Regions from separate parts of the Homo sapiens genome. Here region 2 is linked to region 1. The links come from fine-mapping of genetic effects on gene expression. A gene starts in region 1. The other region holds a variant in brackets. All regions are shown on one strand. Distances are from middle to middle. Region 1 holds the start of PPFIBP2 (PPFIB scaffold protein 2). Region 2 overlaps PPFIBP2 (PPFIB scaffold protein 2).

Region 1 (8,333 bases):
CTTCTTGCTGGGATTTAAATGCCCTTTTTCTTAAGGAAACAAAATGCATGCCTATGTTGCATTTTCGCTCTAGGATTTTCCAAGGGAAACCCTTCTTCTAAGGACGGTCATGTCACAGTAGAACTGAAAATATTCCCCATCAGTATTAGACCTGAAAGGAAACAAGATTTACCAAGCATGGGGAGCCTTCCAGAAAGCAGACAGCTCATGTTTATAAAGTAATCTCTCCTTTTTCTCCTGTTTGGCCAGGCTGTGACAACATGCTGATGGGCATAAAGTCTTTGAAAATAGTGAAGAAGATGATGGACACACATGGCTCTTGGATGAAAGATGCTGTCTATAACTCTCCAAAGGTGTACTTATTAATTGGATCCAGAAACAACACTGTTTGGGAATTTGCAAACATACGGGCATTCATGGAGGATAACACCAAGCCAGCTCCCCGGAAGCAAATCCTAACACTTTCCTGGCAGGGAACAGGCCAAGTGATCTACAAAGGTTTTCTATTTTTTCATAACCAAGCAACTTCTAATGAGATAATCAAATATAACCTGCAGAAGAGGACTGTGGAAGATCGAATGCTGCTCCCAGGAGGGGTAGGCCGAGCATTGGTTTACCAGCACTCCCCCTCAACTTACATTGACCTGGCTGTGGATGAGCATGGGCTCTGGGCCATCCACTCTGGGCCAGGCACCCATAGCCATTTGGTTCTCACAAAGATTGAGCCGGGCACACTGGGAGTGGAGCATTCATGGGATACCCCATGCAGAAGCCAGGATGCTGAAGCCTCATTCCTCTTGTGTGGGGTTCTCTATGTGGTCTACAGTACTGGGGGCCAGGGCCCTCATCGCATCACCTGCATCTATGATCCACTGGGCACTATCAGTGAGGAGGACTTGCCCAACTTGTTCTTCCCCAAGAGACCAAGAAGTCACTCCATGATCCATTACAACCCCAGAGATAAGCAGCTCTATGCCTGGAATGAAGGAAACCAGATCATTTACAAACTCCAGACAAAGAGAAAGCTGCCTCTGAAGTAATGCATTACAGCTGTGAGAAAGAGCACTGTGGCTTTGGCAGCTGTTCTACAGGACAGTGAGGCTATAGCCCCTTCACAATATAGTATCCCTCTAATCACACACAGGAAGAGTGTGTAGAAGTGGAAATACGTATGCCTCCTTTCCCAAATGTCACTGCCTTAGGTATCTTCCAAGAGCTTAGATGAGAGCATATCATCAGGAAAGTTTCAACAATGTCCATTACTCCCCCAAACCTCCTGGCTCTCAAGGATGACCACATTCTGATACAGCCTACTTCAAGCCTTTTGTTTTACTGCTCCCCAGCATTTACTGTAACTCTGCCATCTTCCCTCCCACAATTAGAGTTGTATGCCAGCCCCTAATATTCACCACTGGCTTTTCTCTCCCCTGGCCTTTGCTGAAGCTCTTCCCTCTTTTTCAAATGTCTATTGATATTCTCCCATTTTCACTGCCCAACTAAAATACTATTAATATTTCTTTCTTTTCTTTTCTTTTTTTTGAGACAAGGTCTCACTATGTTGCCCAGGCTGGTCTCAAACTCCAGAGCTCAAGAGATCCTCCTGCCTCAGCCTCCTAAGTACCTGGGATTACAGGCATGTGCCACCACACCTGGCTTAAAATACTATTTCTTATTGAGGTTTAACCTCTATTTCCCCTAGCCCTGTCCTTCCACTAAGCTTGGTAGATGTAATAATAAAGTGAAAATATTAACATTTGAATATCGCTTTCCAGGTGTGGAGTGTTTGCACATCATTTAATTCTCGTTTCACCTTTGTGAAACATGCACAAGTCTTTACAGCTGTCATTCTAGAGTTTAGGTGAGTAACACAATTACAAAGTGAAAGATACAGCTAGAAAATACTACAAATCCCATAGTTTTTCCATTGCCCAAGGAAGCATCAAATACGTATGTTTGTTCACCTACTCTTATAGTCAATGCGTTCATCGTTTCAGCCTAAAAATAATAGTCTGTCCCTTTAGCCAGTTTTCATGTCTGCACAAGACCTTTCAATAGGCCTTTCAAATGATAATTCCTCCAGAAAACCAGTCTAAGGGTGAGGACCCCAACTCTAGCCTCCTCTTGTCTTGCTGTCCTCTGTTTCTCTCTTTCTGCTTTAAATTCAATAAAAGTGACACTGAGCAAATAACCTCATCAGGTTATATTTGCCCACATACCCTAAGCACAAAAGCTTTCTGGGAGTGCTGCTTGTGTTAGGTTTACTGTGAATGATTCCCAACACACTGAGGCCCTGGTAAATATTCTGGAATCTGGACAGAAGCCATACAGCAGGCAAGCGACTCTGCCACAGCAGGCATGCCCTGTGGCACCGAGGGCAGCATGCCTCTTGACAGGGGCTTCCTCAGTGTTTCCCACGTGTTTGTCCAATTCAGCTAAGTTCGAGTCACAAGTGCAGGCTGTGGTGCCAGTCTGTGTCACGTGCTGAAGCCTCTGTCTTTCCAGGTTGGTCACATGAGAAGGTTTGCTTTGTGTGCTTGCAGCTGTTTTCCTGTCTTTGCCAAGCCCAGGCTGGGACCATAGGCAGTGAAGAGAAAATGTTTTTTTCCATAGCATTTGAGTAGATATTTGGCAGAAGGGAATTACTCAACCCATGGATACAGTGTAATTACCCACAGTTCTAACAGAATGGTACAGAGAGGCCAAATCCTTTGTGGAATGAGACAGGTATGAATAAATAAATGTGATATTACCTGCCCTATTACCTACCTATTTCACAGATAGAAGGAATGTGGGCTGCCTCACAGAGGATAGTGGGGTAGATTTATCAATAGGAGTGAGTCCTGCAACCATAGTTCCTTTGGAGGCACAGAGGGGAGGTTGCCTGAAATGTGCTGTCTAGATTCCACCTGGGATATGATTTGATTGACAGCTCTGCAGGGCACATCTGCCCCAAACAACTCACCTTGGTACCTACCTTAAATCCCTGCAGCTCGAATCACTCTTTTAGGTCAAGACATTTTCTCCAGGAAGCCCCTGTTAAGGGACCACTTTGCTTCTTGTGAGCCAGCGCAGGTCAGTATGCAGGCCTGGGAATGGGGTTTCTTTCAGGTGAACGTTTTAGCTCTGGGGTCTTGTTGGATTTAAGTGAAGACTGACATCGACATGGCCTACATCAGTGGTTCTTAAACTTTGTTGCACATAAGAATCACCTGCGGAGTTTTAACAGTCCTCATGCCGTGGCCATATCCCCAAGACCATTAAATCAGAACCTCTGGGGATGGATCGAGATATCAGTATTTTTAAAGTTCCTTCCCGCAAGTTGGTTCCAAAGTGCAAAGAAGCTCCAGAGCCGGTGACTTAGAACATTTAAAAAGGTAACTGTATCAATTTAAGAACAGGCTAGCAGTTTCTGGGGGCGGAGGTAAGGGGAGTGGCTCCGCTAGGGCAATAAAGGGTGGGATTCGGAAACAGCCATGACCTTGTGTGAACTGTGGCAGCCTGCGTCTACAAAAGTCGCTCTGCTGCTATTTTAAGGAAGTGAAAGAGAACTGAAGGGTGTCCTGTTGTAACACAACTCTTGCGGGCCCCAGCCTTCCCCTGCTGGCTGTGCTTTGGTCTGCTGCTGGCCAGGTTCCCGCAGTGACCACACGTCTCATATTTGCCAGGGTGGGTTAGGTTCTGTTCACATGTAAAATTCTCCTGGGCCTACTGGTCATTTCAGACCGCGAGGGTAAATTTGGTTTGAAAAAGTTGTGTCCTGTGGAGTTTGTCGACACTCCAGCCTGTAGAGAACTAAAGGCTAGGGCTGTGGTGACTCCTGCCAGAGCTGGGGACTATGCCGAGTCCCTGGTGTCGCTGCCATCTGAGGCCTACAGGGATTTTAAACAGCTTAACAGCAGCCAGTCCTTGGAGGCCTGGGCAGGGCCACAACATAGCAGTACAACCAAAACGGGTTCAGGCCACACGCTGGAGGTAGGGGCTGGACCAGATCTCCAGCTTCAGTCCTCCCCAGTTCGAGAACCCATTCCTGTGGTCAGACATTGCCAACGCTTTTCTTGGACCTAAGGTCCCAGACCTTGGCGCTGGGCACAGGGAAATGCTTCCTGACCTCGGCTCTTCATAAGACAGAACTTTTGTTTGGTGCCAACCACTAGAGGGACCTCCACCCCAGGTTGCGAGTGCAGCGCGGCGGGACCTGGGATGATTCGGGGGCTTTCCGACCTGCTTAGGGAGGGCGGCTCAGAGACAACCTCAATTTTGCCTGGATTGCACGCGGGCCGAGGAAGTCGGGATGCTCCGAAGGGTTTCTGCTCTGGGAGTGCCTCTAATGTGGGTTTTCTATGCTTTCTCTCTTCGCAATTCTCGACACCGTTTCCTTCTTCCTCGCTTTCATTCCCTGTGACCGGAGAACGGCGCTGAAGGACTGGAGAAGCCCAGGAGACTGGGAGCCGGAGCGCCGGGTACCCACCCGGGCCTCCCCGCAACCGGAGCTGTGCGGAGGAGGAGGCGCGGCGAACGGGGCGGGGCTCCCGGAAGGGGGCGCGGTCCGCCGAGAGAGGCGGGGCTGGGGCCCGGACGCGCGGCCCAGGGGGTGGGGACGAGGCAGGTTCGAAGGGGCGGGGCTGACCAGGCCGGTCCCCCGGGAACAGGAACCCTGGTGGACGGGTCCCAGCAGGCTTCTTCGGTGCCCGAGAGGGAGCGGGTGCCCAAGGGGGTGGTCCCTGTGGCAGGTCCCGGGGTGGGGGCGCGGCGCTCCGGGAAGAGCCTTCCGCAGGTCCCCGCCCCGTCACGTGGGCGCCGGCCCCGGCCGCTGCGGTCGGTCCGCTGGTTGGTCGGGCGCTTGGTCCGGCAGTTGGTCGGTGGGCCAGTGGCCCGTCGCTCGCTTCTGGGCTCTCATGTTTGAAGGTGGGAGGGACACGGGAGCGGCCCGCACACCTGAGCCGCCCGGAGAGGAGCCTCGGCCCCGTACCCAGGTCAGTGGGCTCTCCCCACACCCCGGGCTTGCCGCGCGGTCGGGGTTGGGATCCCCGTCGGGAGCATTACCTAGGGAGTGGAGCGCCCCCAGAGCTACGAACCACGGGGACGTGTGGGTCAGTGTCTCTGTGAGCCCCGGAGCGTGTCCCAGGCTCGAGGACGGGGACCCTTCTCCAACTCCACTGGCCAGAAGCCTGGGAGGAGGGCAGAACTCCTGTGGGTTGGCTGCGAATCTCCACCCAACCCTGCCTGGGATCCGCGGACAGTCCGCACTCCTGCAGGTGCCAGCGTGGCCCTGGAGATGCGCAGGGAGGTGGGGTCCCTGAGTTCTGTGCGGCGCGTCCCAGCCCTGCTCAGCCCGGGGAGCAGCGGCGTGGACTAGGGAGCCTAAGGAGGTTGCGGAAGCTTTAGGTCTGTCAGCCCAGGCAATTCTCTGGTGGACACAGCGTGTGTCTAGATGCAGGGCCTCGGCTAAAGCCAGTTCTGTAGTGTAAGTGCAAAAATACAGCACACTTTTTAAAATCTAAAGCCGCCGCGTCCCAGTAGACTGCAGGATGGGGACGGTCCTATTTAAAAGTGGGCTCCCTCCTCACCTCATCACATCAGATTCCAGACCCGCAGTTTTTCCTCGGATGAAAATAAGATTATGTAACAAGAGAACAGAACTTCCAGCGTTTGGATAGGATTAAGACAGGCATTCTTGCCAGTGTTTAATCTTCTTAAAAAACGAATCTAATTATATTTTTACTTTTAGAGCAGCCAGATATTTGGTATAGATCCGTGTCCCTTTTCTATATTTTGGTCTACTTCCTGTCTTTCTCTTCGTCTCTCTCCTTTCTCAACCCCTCCTTAATTGATTGTAATACAAATCTGAAGTGTTTTCAAATTTGTAGTGTATTATGTGAAGTTAAATGGTCAACTACAGAAAAGTAGTTGGTTTTCGACATAATTCATCTTCAGCATATTCAGTCTTTCATTATTATAGGTGTATGGAAAGCTGTAAGTGTTATCTAATTTAGAAATTATTTCTCTTTGGCTTAAGAGAGGCAACCCATTTGTACTTTGCTTAAATTCATAGCTAAATAAATTTGAAGTGGGAGATGGGGATGATTGATGAGGTTTTCACTGATTGCATTTATCCATGTTTTATTTAACATATTTCAATTATTAGTAATACTATTTTAAGATTTGGTGATGTGACAGTTGTTAGCTTATTGCTACTGGAGAGATAAGCTGCTTACCATGATGCCTTCTTTACTGGGTAGCTAAGGGAGATGCGCTTTGACTTTAAAAGAGTAAGTGGAATGAGATCAATGACATGAAGGCGGTAGGAACAAAGTTATGGGAATTCCTGTCTTTCATCTGAGCAGGGAAATCTGGGATAATTTTAAGAAAGGGTGATGTGATGGACCTCAAAGGATCCCTCCTGGGGTTTTTGAGGCAGAGAAGGGTAGAGTGTGGCCTGGGCTGTGACAACTGTGTGGGCAGGCAGGCATGGACTCACCATGAGAAGTGGCCAGTGGTCCAGCTTGGCTCTTATGTCAAGTGCTAGTCAGGAAAGCTGGTGACAAGGCTGGAAAATAGTCCCAGCTGTCCAGTACAGAAGTCTGGACTTGGTCTGAAGGCACAGCAGGGGACTGACTGATGGTTCTGTGAACTTCTCAAAGTCAAAGACCTTGGTCCTTGACCCTCCCAATTCCTAGCCTGATACAGAGAAAATCCAGTAAATATTTGTGGAGTGCATGGTCTGACAACACTGTAGAGCAGAGCTTCTCAAAGTTGAGAATCCTGTGGGGATCTTGTTCAAATGCAAATTATGATTCCATAGGTCAGGGGTGGGACTTGACATTCTGTGTTTCTAACAGATTCCCAGGAGCTTGCTGATCATTTCCCTATGTGTAGCAAGGATTTAGAGTAGCAGTTTGCAAACCTGGCTATGCCTCATAATCGCCTGGGGAGTTTTGTAAAACGTTCAGATTAAGTAGTCTGGGATGTTTTTACCAAGTTCCCCCAGGTGATTCTGTTGACAAACCCGAAGGCAACTGCTGCAATGGCAAAGTTCTGGGAGTGTGGTGGGAAGCAAACTCCAAGGGAAAAAGACAGTGGGGGCGGCGAGGCCGGATAGGAAACCGGGAGGCTGATCCAGGGTCAAAGGGATGAGGCCTTATTTTGGGCCTGAGAGAGTGATGAGGTGGGGACAGGTAGGGAGACTTCGGAGAGATAGAATCTGTAGGACAGAGGACTAGGGAATGGGACAGTCTCTAGACTGATTAGATGCAATGAGAAGTGAGGAGGGAGAAACAATGCTGGGAAGATTCAGCTTTGGGCCTGAGGAATGGTATGGCCTTTAGACTGTAATGTTTAAGGTAAAGTTTATGAAAGGTTCTTGTATTGGTTCGAACCCCGAGAGCCTGCCAACAGACAACATGAGGCGGTGTGGGGCAACGTGCTGTTTTAACGAGCGCCTGGGTGCAGGTGGGCTGAGGCCTAAAATGGCGTCAGCACCAAGTGAGGACGAGGCAGGGGTTTTATAGTTTCCTGTAAACAAGAAGTGTCTCAGTCTGATGTAACTTCTGCACAGTACCCAGACGGCCCCTCTCTCTGTCTTCAAGGGGTACGTGTCTTCCAGCCAGGGTAGGTGTCTTCTGGCCGGCTGTCTTCCTGCTTCTGCTGTCTTGCTGATGCACACTGCTGGCGCAACTGGCCTTGCACCTTGGGACTGGGCCTGAGAAGGGAGGAGTTACTCATCTCTTCAAGCTTTCAGACCCCGGGGAGAATCTTTCATTCCTGTCTATTTGGTTATAGTAAAAAGGGAAAAGGGGTGACTTTCTCAATAACTACTTCAGGCGTGACTTAGGGGTGGTGTGGGCTCCTTGGAAAAAGAAAAACTTAATTTTTAGGGTATTCTTGAGAGATGTGTTGGTATCCATCGTGTCGTTGTAGCAGGAGCATAGTCTGAATTGTCTGGTGGCTAACTGTAGTTTCAATAAGAGTTTTAGTGGCTTTTATTATTAGTGGGATAACACAGGGGAGAAAAAGTGATGAAGATTACTGTCCCTACCAGGGTTTTAAATCCTCCTAAATTAGAGAACTGTTGTCCGGCTGCTAGAGTGAGAGCTCGAGTGAGGGTGATGAGTTCAGCTTTTTGGGAGGTGGTGCCTGGGAGGAGCAGATTGGCTTCAATAGTGTGGGGTCTTTAAGGGTAATGTGGACAGGGGTGTGGTGTTTTGCAACTGAGGGTGTGGAAATATCCCTAACAGCGGGGTTAACTACAGATAGGGGTAAGGAAAGGTTGCATGTTTTAGGGTGGGAGGTTGGAGGAGCAGAAGAAAGCTAGAAGCCTCGGAGGGGTCTGGGTT
Region 2 (8,333 bases), 70 kb after region 1:
TTGTAGCAGGGAAGTGACATGGGATACATTGGGGGGGGTCTAGTTTGTATTTTAAGAAAATTACTCTAGCTGTGATGTGGTATATGGTAAGCTATGTTGGGAAAAGTGAGGCAACTGAACACAATTATAGGGCTGGAGGGCTTGGAGGGATGGGATAGTACAAACCCCTCATTTAACAAAGCCCAAGAGGGGCTAAGAACCTCATGGTATTAGTGTCATAGCTATTAGTGGTGCAGCCTGGTCTTGAACCCTGTTCTCTATCTCCCAGTCTAGTTCTCTTTATTCATTTTCTCTGCCAAATATGTATAAAATTATTGCTTTAGAACCCAGCAGAAATCCTGTCTGTGCCCAGCCCCTAGGGCATCACAGTCACCAGAAAGCATGCTGAGATGACCAGACGTTTTGGCAAAGGTTTGCATCATCTTAGGTTTTTTTTTTAAGCCCCACTGGGGAGATACTGAAAGGAAATATGTAAGAAATGCACTGACCATCACTTGGTCCTTCTTTCCCTGTATCCCAAATGAAGCTTTTAATCAAGAAATCCTTTCAGCCAACATGTGCCTGGGATTGTCAGAGCCTTGTCCCAGCCCCTGGGGCAGATACTGTAACTCTGCCTGCTACAGGAGAAGTTATGTGTGTGGAGGAACTAATTTTGCATGTGATGCAATGTAAGAAGGCCCTTCTTGTCCCAAGACCCAGGGTATGCTGGCTCCTGTGGACAGTTGGAAGTTTGCTTAGGGAAACTTTAAGCAAGGAGACTTTAGAAACCCCCAGGATGACTCATAGCAAAACAGATATTTTTCTTCTACTTTTAGAATTTTAAAGAGCATTTTACAAAAGCAAAACTCAAAGTGTAGACATGTCATTGGCAGTGTGATAAGAGTATTTTCACTATTCTCTACCCTAAACACTACTGCCAGATTTTTAAAATCTTCTTAAAAAAAAAAACAAAAAAAACAAATTCCCTTTCGTCCTGTGACCCCAGTGATGAGCCCCCCTGGACTCACCCTTAATCTGGAAGAAAAATCAGGCCCTTCGGCTTGCTTGGCCTTTGAGACCATTAGCAGCCCAACCTCAACTTACCTTTTTAGTTTTATCTTTTATATCTACCCTGATGAGCTCCCAAGTGTATTTCTTCCCTTTTCTGAGCTTTTACCACAGATGACCACCTCCTCTCTAACTCTCATCCACTTCAACTGACTCCATCCAGGCTGTCTTTTCCCAGGAAACCTCTGCTGGCCCTCCCTCCCCACCTCCTGTAGCCCAGGTCTGCAGCACTTCCCATCTGCATGGCTCACCCACCCTTTCTCCTGTGCTTCAGCTGAGGTGGTGTGGAGAGCTGGTTTCTCTGAACTCATGCTTTTGAAGGTAGAAACACTATCGTCTTCATTCTCCTTTACAGAGGGCATAGATTCTGGAAGAAGAGGTTCCTGGTGCCAGAGCAGGAGCCCTTGCCCTTTGAGCAGTCCAAGGTGGTGGTGTCTCAGGGCAAAGGGGAGATACTTATGTTCAGAGAGGCATGGAGCTGGAGGGGAAATATTTGCTCAGAAAAGAAATCTTGCTCCAGGGCCTGTGTGGGATGGGATAGTATATACTATTAATATTACAGTTAAGAACATGGAGTCTGGAGTGAGGCCTGAATTAGAATCCTGGCATTGCCACGTTTACCAGCTGTGTGATCCAAGGTAAATTATCTCAAAAGTCTGGATTTCTTTAACTATAAAATAAGGGAGATAATAGTACCTACCACATACAGGCTTTATGAGGACTCAGTAAGATAGTACGATTAGTGCAGTATCATGCATGTAGGAAATACTCAATAACATGCTTGCTATTAACTGCTATTGGTGATTATCAGGAAGGGAGAAGTTGAAAGAGGAACAGATGGAACCAGGTTCTCTCCTAGAATTGCCTCTCAGGCCATTCAGTGCTTCAGCTTTATGACCCTTCCCATACTCCAGATCAAGGTCTCAAACCAAGCATATTGAAGACCTAGAAAAGGCAGCTGCAACCTGGGCCACCATAGGTGACCAGAGGCCTCATTGGCTGCTGGATCTGGCCAGCTTGGCTGTGGTTGCTGAGTGAAGGCTGATCAGGGCTGATGCTCTAGTTCATTCTCCTAACAGACAAAGCCTAGGGATAAGGTAGTCTCTTGCCACAAGTATCCAGAGGGACTCAGTCACAAACAGCTCACACCTGTTCTACATTGAGTCCAGTGGATCCAACCCACACAACCATGAACACACCTCTAAAAATAGCTCCGAGCAGGGTCTGTGGGACCCACCCACTGCTCTTTCGGCAAGAGTTCATTTTCCCAGGAACAGAAATCCCAGACTGTCAGCATCTTCACACTGCTTCCTGGCTTCCAGCACTCTCAGTGCTTAAGCAAATTCCAACTGTAGGTCACAAAGAAAATGGAATCACTACAGGTCCCCCATGCAGTTGGCTCAGGTTCTGCAGTAAAAAGTGGAATTAACTCAAGCTGCTAATGTGAGACTTTATTCTGTGTCATCTGGTGCTCAAATGGTTGATCTAGTAGCCTGGCCACTTGGGCCAGAAGAGCTGCAAAGGCAGACACGGAGGTCTCCTCACTCCAGACACTGACTTGCCTTGCATTCATGTTGGACTGCAGTGAAAGTTACAGAAATAGGCAGCAGCTTCTGTGAAGGCTGTTCCTACTAGTTAAGAGCATGGATCCTGGATCTAGATTCCTTGGGCTCATATCTCACCTCTGTGTAGACTTGGGCAATTTATTTAACCTTCCTAGAATTCAATTTCCTTGATTATATATATGGATAAACAATTCTATAGATAGATAGATAGATAGATTTTTTTTTTTTTGAGACAGAGTCTAGGTCTGTCACCCAGGCTGGAGTGCAGTGGCACAATCTTGGCTCACTTCAACCTCCTTCTCCTAGCTTCAAGCGATTCTCCTGCCTCAGCCTCCCGAGTAGCTGGGATTACAGGCATACACCGCCATGCCCAGCTAATTTTTTGTATTTTTAGTAGAGATGGGGTTTTGCCATGTTAGCCAGTCTGGTCTCGAACTCCTGATCTCAGATGATGCGCCCGCCTCAGCCTCCCAAAGTGCTGGGATTACAGGCGTGAGCCACCGTGCCCAGCCAATTCAATGTATGTTAAGTGCTTAGGAAGCACTTTATAAGTGTTAGAGTTATGGGGAGGATGACATCGATCAGAACTGACAACCTCTGGTTACTCGGGAGCCAGGTACCCAACCTTGATTCTGAAAAGAGAGGTTTTTCAATCCTATGGGAAAGGCAACAGTGGATATGGTCACCCAAGGGCACTAGCTTCCTCAATTTCCTATGATACCTCCTATTTCTGGCCAACACACCCGAGATGCCTGTACATTATGTTTCCTGGTATAATTTAGAAGCTAGAATTCTGCCATCTCTGACATCCAGCACCTGTAACTCCTGCCAGCTCCTTGAAGAGAGGCCTCTTTTACCCAGTGGGATTTAACAAACTGGCATCACACCAGGGTCATTTGCTGAACAACTTGTGGGCACTACAGAGCAGCACAGCCATTGTTGGTTTTGTGGACTGGCAGCAGCACTTAGGGATCCTTTGACTCATCCCTGCTTTTCTCTGTCCCTTCCTCCATAGCAGCTCTTTCACACTTTTCCATTAGTCTTCAACCTTATACTCCCCTTTCAACTGATGTCACTACCAATGTCATAGGAAAAAAAAAAAAAAACCAGCCAAACTGAGATGAGTCTCTTCACCCTCCCTCCCTTTCACCGCAAAATGTAACTGTATTTCAGCATCCTGTTTCATGGGCCAGGAGTCCCTTCTCTCAGCCAAGGCTATCCCAGTATCCTGTCCTTGACCCAATCCTGTTCCAGCTCCTCTTGTTGCTCTGATTGTTTCTTCTCTCAGCTCCTCCCTGCCTATCTGTCCCTTGCCCTTGGTGGAAAATGCTTCTCCTCAATTCTCAGGGAAAAAACAAATCAAAACTATCTTTGACCCTGTGCTTGTCTCTTCATGCTGCCTTATAACTTACCTTCCTTTCACTGTTAAGATTCTTGGTGAGTTGTTAGCCTGCTCGTTCATCTCTACTCCCTCCTGGTCACTCCTGAAGCCAGTGAGCACTAACTTTGTTCCTATAGTCATCTTTTAAATTCCTTCTGTAATGTTATTTTTGCTGCCTCTAGTTCCCAGGCAATCTTCCCCATACATTTTCCTTTGTATTCATTTCCATTTGGAAATCTTGTAGGATTAATGGCATTCTTGTGACCCGAGGAGCAGCTCCTTACTTTGGCTCTTGCCTAATTCTGTGTTCTCAAACTTTGGATCTTTCATGCCGAAGAGAC[A/T]CCAGGCTCTAAAGCCTCCAGGGGAGCTAAGACAGTCACAGCGCCCACTCCACCCTAACTGTAGCACCCAGTCCTGCTGCACTGTCTCTGAAGGTGTTTTCAGTAATAATGACTCAGTGCATCTATTGGAGTTGGCAAGGTGAGGACAGTCTTCAAAGAGTCTTCTCTTTTTACTCTCCTCCTGGCTTTCACATCCTCTCATTACAGGATACCAGCACACATACAAATGCTATTTCTGCAGCCCAGTGCTGTAAGCTTTTTATGTGTCCAGCTACCAGATAAAGAGAATTTAGCAGTGACCAAGCTCAGCCAAGGTTATAATTTTGGGGAAAAAAAAAATCTTGGTAAATGTGTTTCTCTACAAATCTAGCTCCCCAGGAAGATCAGTTAGGAGCTTCATCCCAGCCCCTTGGTTGGAGAGCTGATGGCCAGTTTATCTTCAGGGTGTCCTGTGTTTGCTATGTTAGTTCTGGAAGACCAGAATATCTGAAGGGTAGTGATTGTCATAGCTTCATGGGTAGCATGTCTGTATTGGGAAGGCTATTTCCAAAGCTGCTGTTCTCACATTCTCCTAGGGGTATTCCTTTAAAGCCTTCAGACTCAATCATTCAAATGGTGCCTCCACTGTAAAGCCTCTTCTCTCTTTTGAAGGTGAAATGTTTTTGTCTCTCCTCTATGCCCCTGCCATTCATGTGCATACAACTCTTTATGATAGTACTTATTACATCCTGCTGCAAAGGTTGATTTCTTTTTTCCTTCTGTCCTTATTCCCTGTAATACTACAGAGCTTTTTAAGGGCAGGGACTAAATCATTGTTTAGCACAGAAAGTGGCACCTAGTGGGTGCTCAGGATTATTCAAGTCATTTCATAAATACATTCATGACGTGTGATGATGTGAACATTGGTCAACCAAGAAGCTATTTATTTGCTGTTTATGAACTCTGCTTTGTTCTTCCTTAAAAGAGGACATTTAGATCATTGGATGATAGCCTCATCAGCAATACTTAACCTCCCCTTATATATAATTGAGGGGAGGAGGGAATAAGGGTCAAGGTCAGGATAGGCTTTCTCTTGTTGGACTCCTGGTAGCCGAGGATCTGACTGCACTCTATTCACATTGCATTTGGAAGAAATTTCTTTAACACTGTGACAAAGATGGTAGATTGGCTTGACCGTTCTTCACCTAGAAAAAGCAGAACTGGTCCTGGGAATACTCAGGTTTATAATAAATGCCAGAAAGCCCTAAAACTCCTTAATAAAAAAATCTAGGGGAAGTTTTCTTTTTTATAAGAACCTGCCTACACTCATACTACTGGGTTCCCTTGGTGTTGGGTAACCAGAGTCCTGTAACAGGAATTGACTGTAGCTTTTGTGATCCAATCATTTTTGTTTATTTATTTATTTTGGTCCCCTTACTTTTAAGGTTTATGTCTTCTAAGTTTCTAAAAGGGGTTGCATGTGAGTGGTGCTTCTGAGCTTAAGATATAGCCTTAGTAACTTTGATATCTCCCCTGATGCCCTGTGCCTGGCAGCTATGGTTCACTTGTAACTAGTTTTCTGGATTTTGATAAGATCCTCTTGACTAGGCAGCCTGGAAACACTACACATTTTCTTTTGTTTTCTTATTCAGCTAAAAATACATGTCATCTAAATGGCTAAATAAGGAAGAACCATTTTAAGGCTTATCCAGGACAAGGCTTACCCAACGTGCTGTGTTCAAAATCTCAGCGTATTTACAGGCAAAGAGCCATCATATAATTTAACATGCTCTGACCAGTTGGGACAGTGTATGTACTGTGGCCAAGATCCTGAAGGCACTGGAATTTATAGCTTATTAGAAGCACTGAAGGAAATGTAACTCTTTACCTGGCCAAGATGACAACTATTGATATCAAAAAAAGGAAGGCAGATGCATTTTGAGGATCCCAAGGCAAGAGCTCTGAGAAGCAACTGTTGGCTTCAAAAACCAACATGATGCTAGAGCTGTCACACTGGGGAGCCGACTGTTTTAGGTTTTCCCACACTCCTTACTTGTATACCAATGACACCCCTGTTGTGATCTAGCCCTTGCCCCATTTGACTACTCTGGAACCAACTCCTTCCCCTAGTTCAATGAAGTACAGTGCCAGCAGGAAGTCTCCTGGGTCATGCCAGTTGGGGAGTGCTACAGAACTGCCCTCATCCAGCATCCCTGAGGTGTACCAGAGCACATGTGAAGAGTGTGTTCTCCTTGCAAATGGCCAGCCAGGCCATAAAGCAGTCATGCTGCCCACCACAAATCTGCAGGACCCCAGCCATGGCATCAAGCACTCACCCTGTCTAGAGCTCCAAGGAGAGACTAACATGGCTATCCCTTGGCCAAGCTACAGTGGAAGGGCTAGGCCAGGAGAGAGCATTGTCATAGATCTGAACAGCCACTGCAGTCAGAGGGTGATGTCTTTGAGGAGGCCGCTGGGGGTTAACTTGGCTGAAAAGTTCATGTTTAACCCAAATTTGAACTAACCTCTAGATTGGAACAGAAATAAAAACCCAAGTGTTTATGATTGGTTATTACTAGCTATAAAAATTCCCAGTGTACTCATTATAAACATGTATGTAGCACATAATACTTAGAGTACACAATAAAACACTTGTACGAAAGAAAAATATGTGGCCATGAATGTATGACTCAAAAATGTGAGCACTTGTTCAGGGATAGTGGAGAAGTGAACTCATCTTTGGCAATGTGGCCCAAAGACATGATCCCAGGGCTATTAGCTAATGGTGGGTTCTGCGTTGTCACTGTCACAGAGGCTTTCTTTTTGTTTTGTTTTTTCATTTCAAGCCTGAAAGTATTTTGGTTATTGTTCCCTTGGGTTGTTTGTACAGATCTTCATAGATATTTCTTAGGCATCCTGATCAGAAATATTGCCCCTGTTGTTCTCTTACACAAAAAGAGTGAATTAATTAAAACTTTTTGTAGAAGGCATTAAATGATGCCTTCTAACTCATGCTTCTAACTGAATGTTGGTCTTTTAGATTAAACAAAGCTAAATCATTTATAAGTTAGCTAAATTCATTTGTTAAATTATAATTTAAAAATCATTTCCATATTCCTATGATTATTCAAAAACTGTTTATATCACACAGGAATTTTTAGAGCACCCTACTATAAAGAGCACTCTGTAGTTTTAGTGCCACACGTTTTCAGGTATGCTGACCTAACTTGACCCTTTCTGTTGCTCCGTGAAGCATGATTTTTTCTATTGAAAGGATGGAAAGCCTGAGATGAGGTAACCTACTTGAGATTACACATGGTTAGGTGCAGCCCCAGCCTCCTAATTATTCTTGGTTTGTCCTCTTTCTGCAGAGAAGGTGGTCCCTTGGGGAGGAGGATGCAATAGGAATTCTGTAAATGAATATGGAAGCACCACAAGAAAGTCCCCAGGGATCCCCTGACTTGAAGTTCAGCTGGGCCAAATGAGGGGAACAGGGAACCCAGAGCTCTCAGCCTCCCAGCGCCCAGACCTGGCATTTGTACAGCTGTGTCTGACATGTAATTCTTTCGACATAACTTCTTAAACAGTTGTTAGATCTATTTCTGTTATTTACCCTTCATTTATTCATTTTCTGATTCATTTTCTGATAATATCTTTTAGACTTTAGCTCCTGTTTATTTCTTGTTTTGTTTGAACTTACTTTTTCATATCACACATCCTGCTCCCCACCTCCACCAACCCCGGTTGATGCCCATGGGCCTGTTGCATCTTGTATTCATTCCCTGTCTTAACCTTTTTGCTCTACATGGGAAATAAGAATGGAAGCAAACAGGTGGTGGATAGAAAGCCATCTATTCCACACACAAAGGACACTGAGTGCCCTTTTTATCCTAGTACATCCCACACAGACACTCCCTGTGCCACAAAGTAGATCTCAATTAGCCCCTGATGATAATCCTGGTTTGAACTATAGTTGGCTTAGGACTGACAGCCCTGTCTTAAAAATTGCCACTTTAAGCA

What was found.
Region 2: its variant is fine-mapped to the expression of PPFIBP2 in whole blood (INTERVAL, PIP 0.98).

What each region holds. Positions count from the first base shown.
Region 1 is chr11:7,509,149-7,517,481 of GRCh38, forward strand. It overlaps PPFIBP2 (PPFIB scaffold protein 2), which reads left to right and starts at 4,851. Exons shown (of 24, transcript NM_003621.5): 1 at 4,851-4,973. It overlaps OLFML1 (olfactomedin like 1), which reads left to right. Exons shown (of 3, transcript NM_198474.4): 3 at 250-2,229. The coding sequence ends at 1,040. It overlaps LOC124902806 (leucine-rich repeat extensin-like protein 5), which reads right to left. Exons shown (of 4, transcript XM_047428005.1): 2 at 4,970-5,457; 3 at 2,975-4,892. The coding sequence ends at 4,062. RefSeq lists enhancers at 3,627-3,746, 7,432-7,481 and a silencer at 4,417-4,946.
Region 2 is chr11:7,579,014-7,587,346 of GRCh38, forward strand. All of the region lies in intron 3 of PPFIBP2 (PPFIB scaffold protein 2), which reads left to right. It overlaps LOC105376535 (a long non-coding RNA gene), which reads right to left. Exons shown (of 4, transcript XR_007062579.1): 3 at 2,247-2,396. Among named protein-coding and RNA genes, the nearest start is that of PPFIBP2, 69 kb to the left of the region's middle. The variant A/T (reference allele first, on the strand shown) is at 4,335.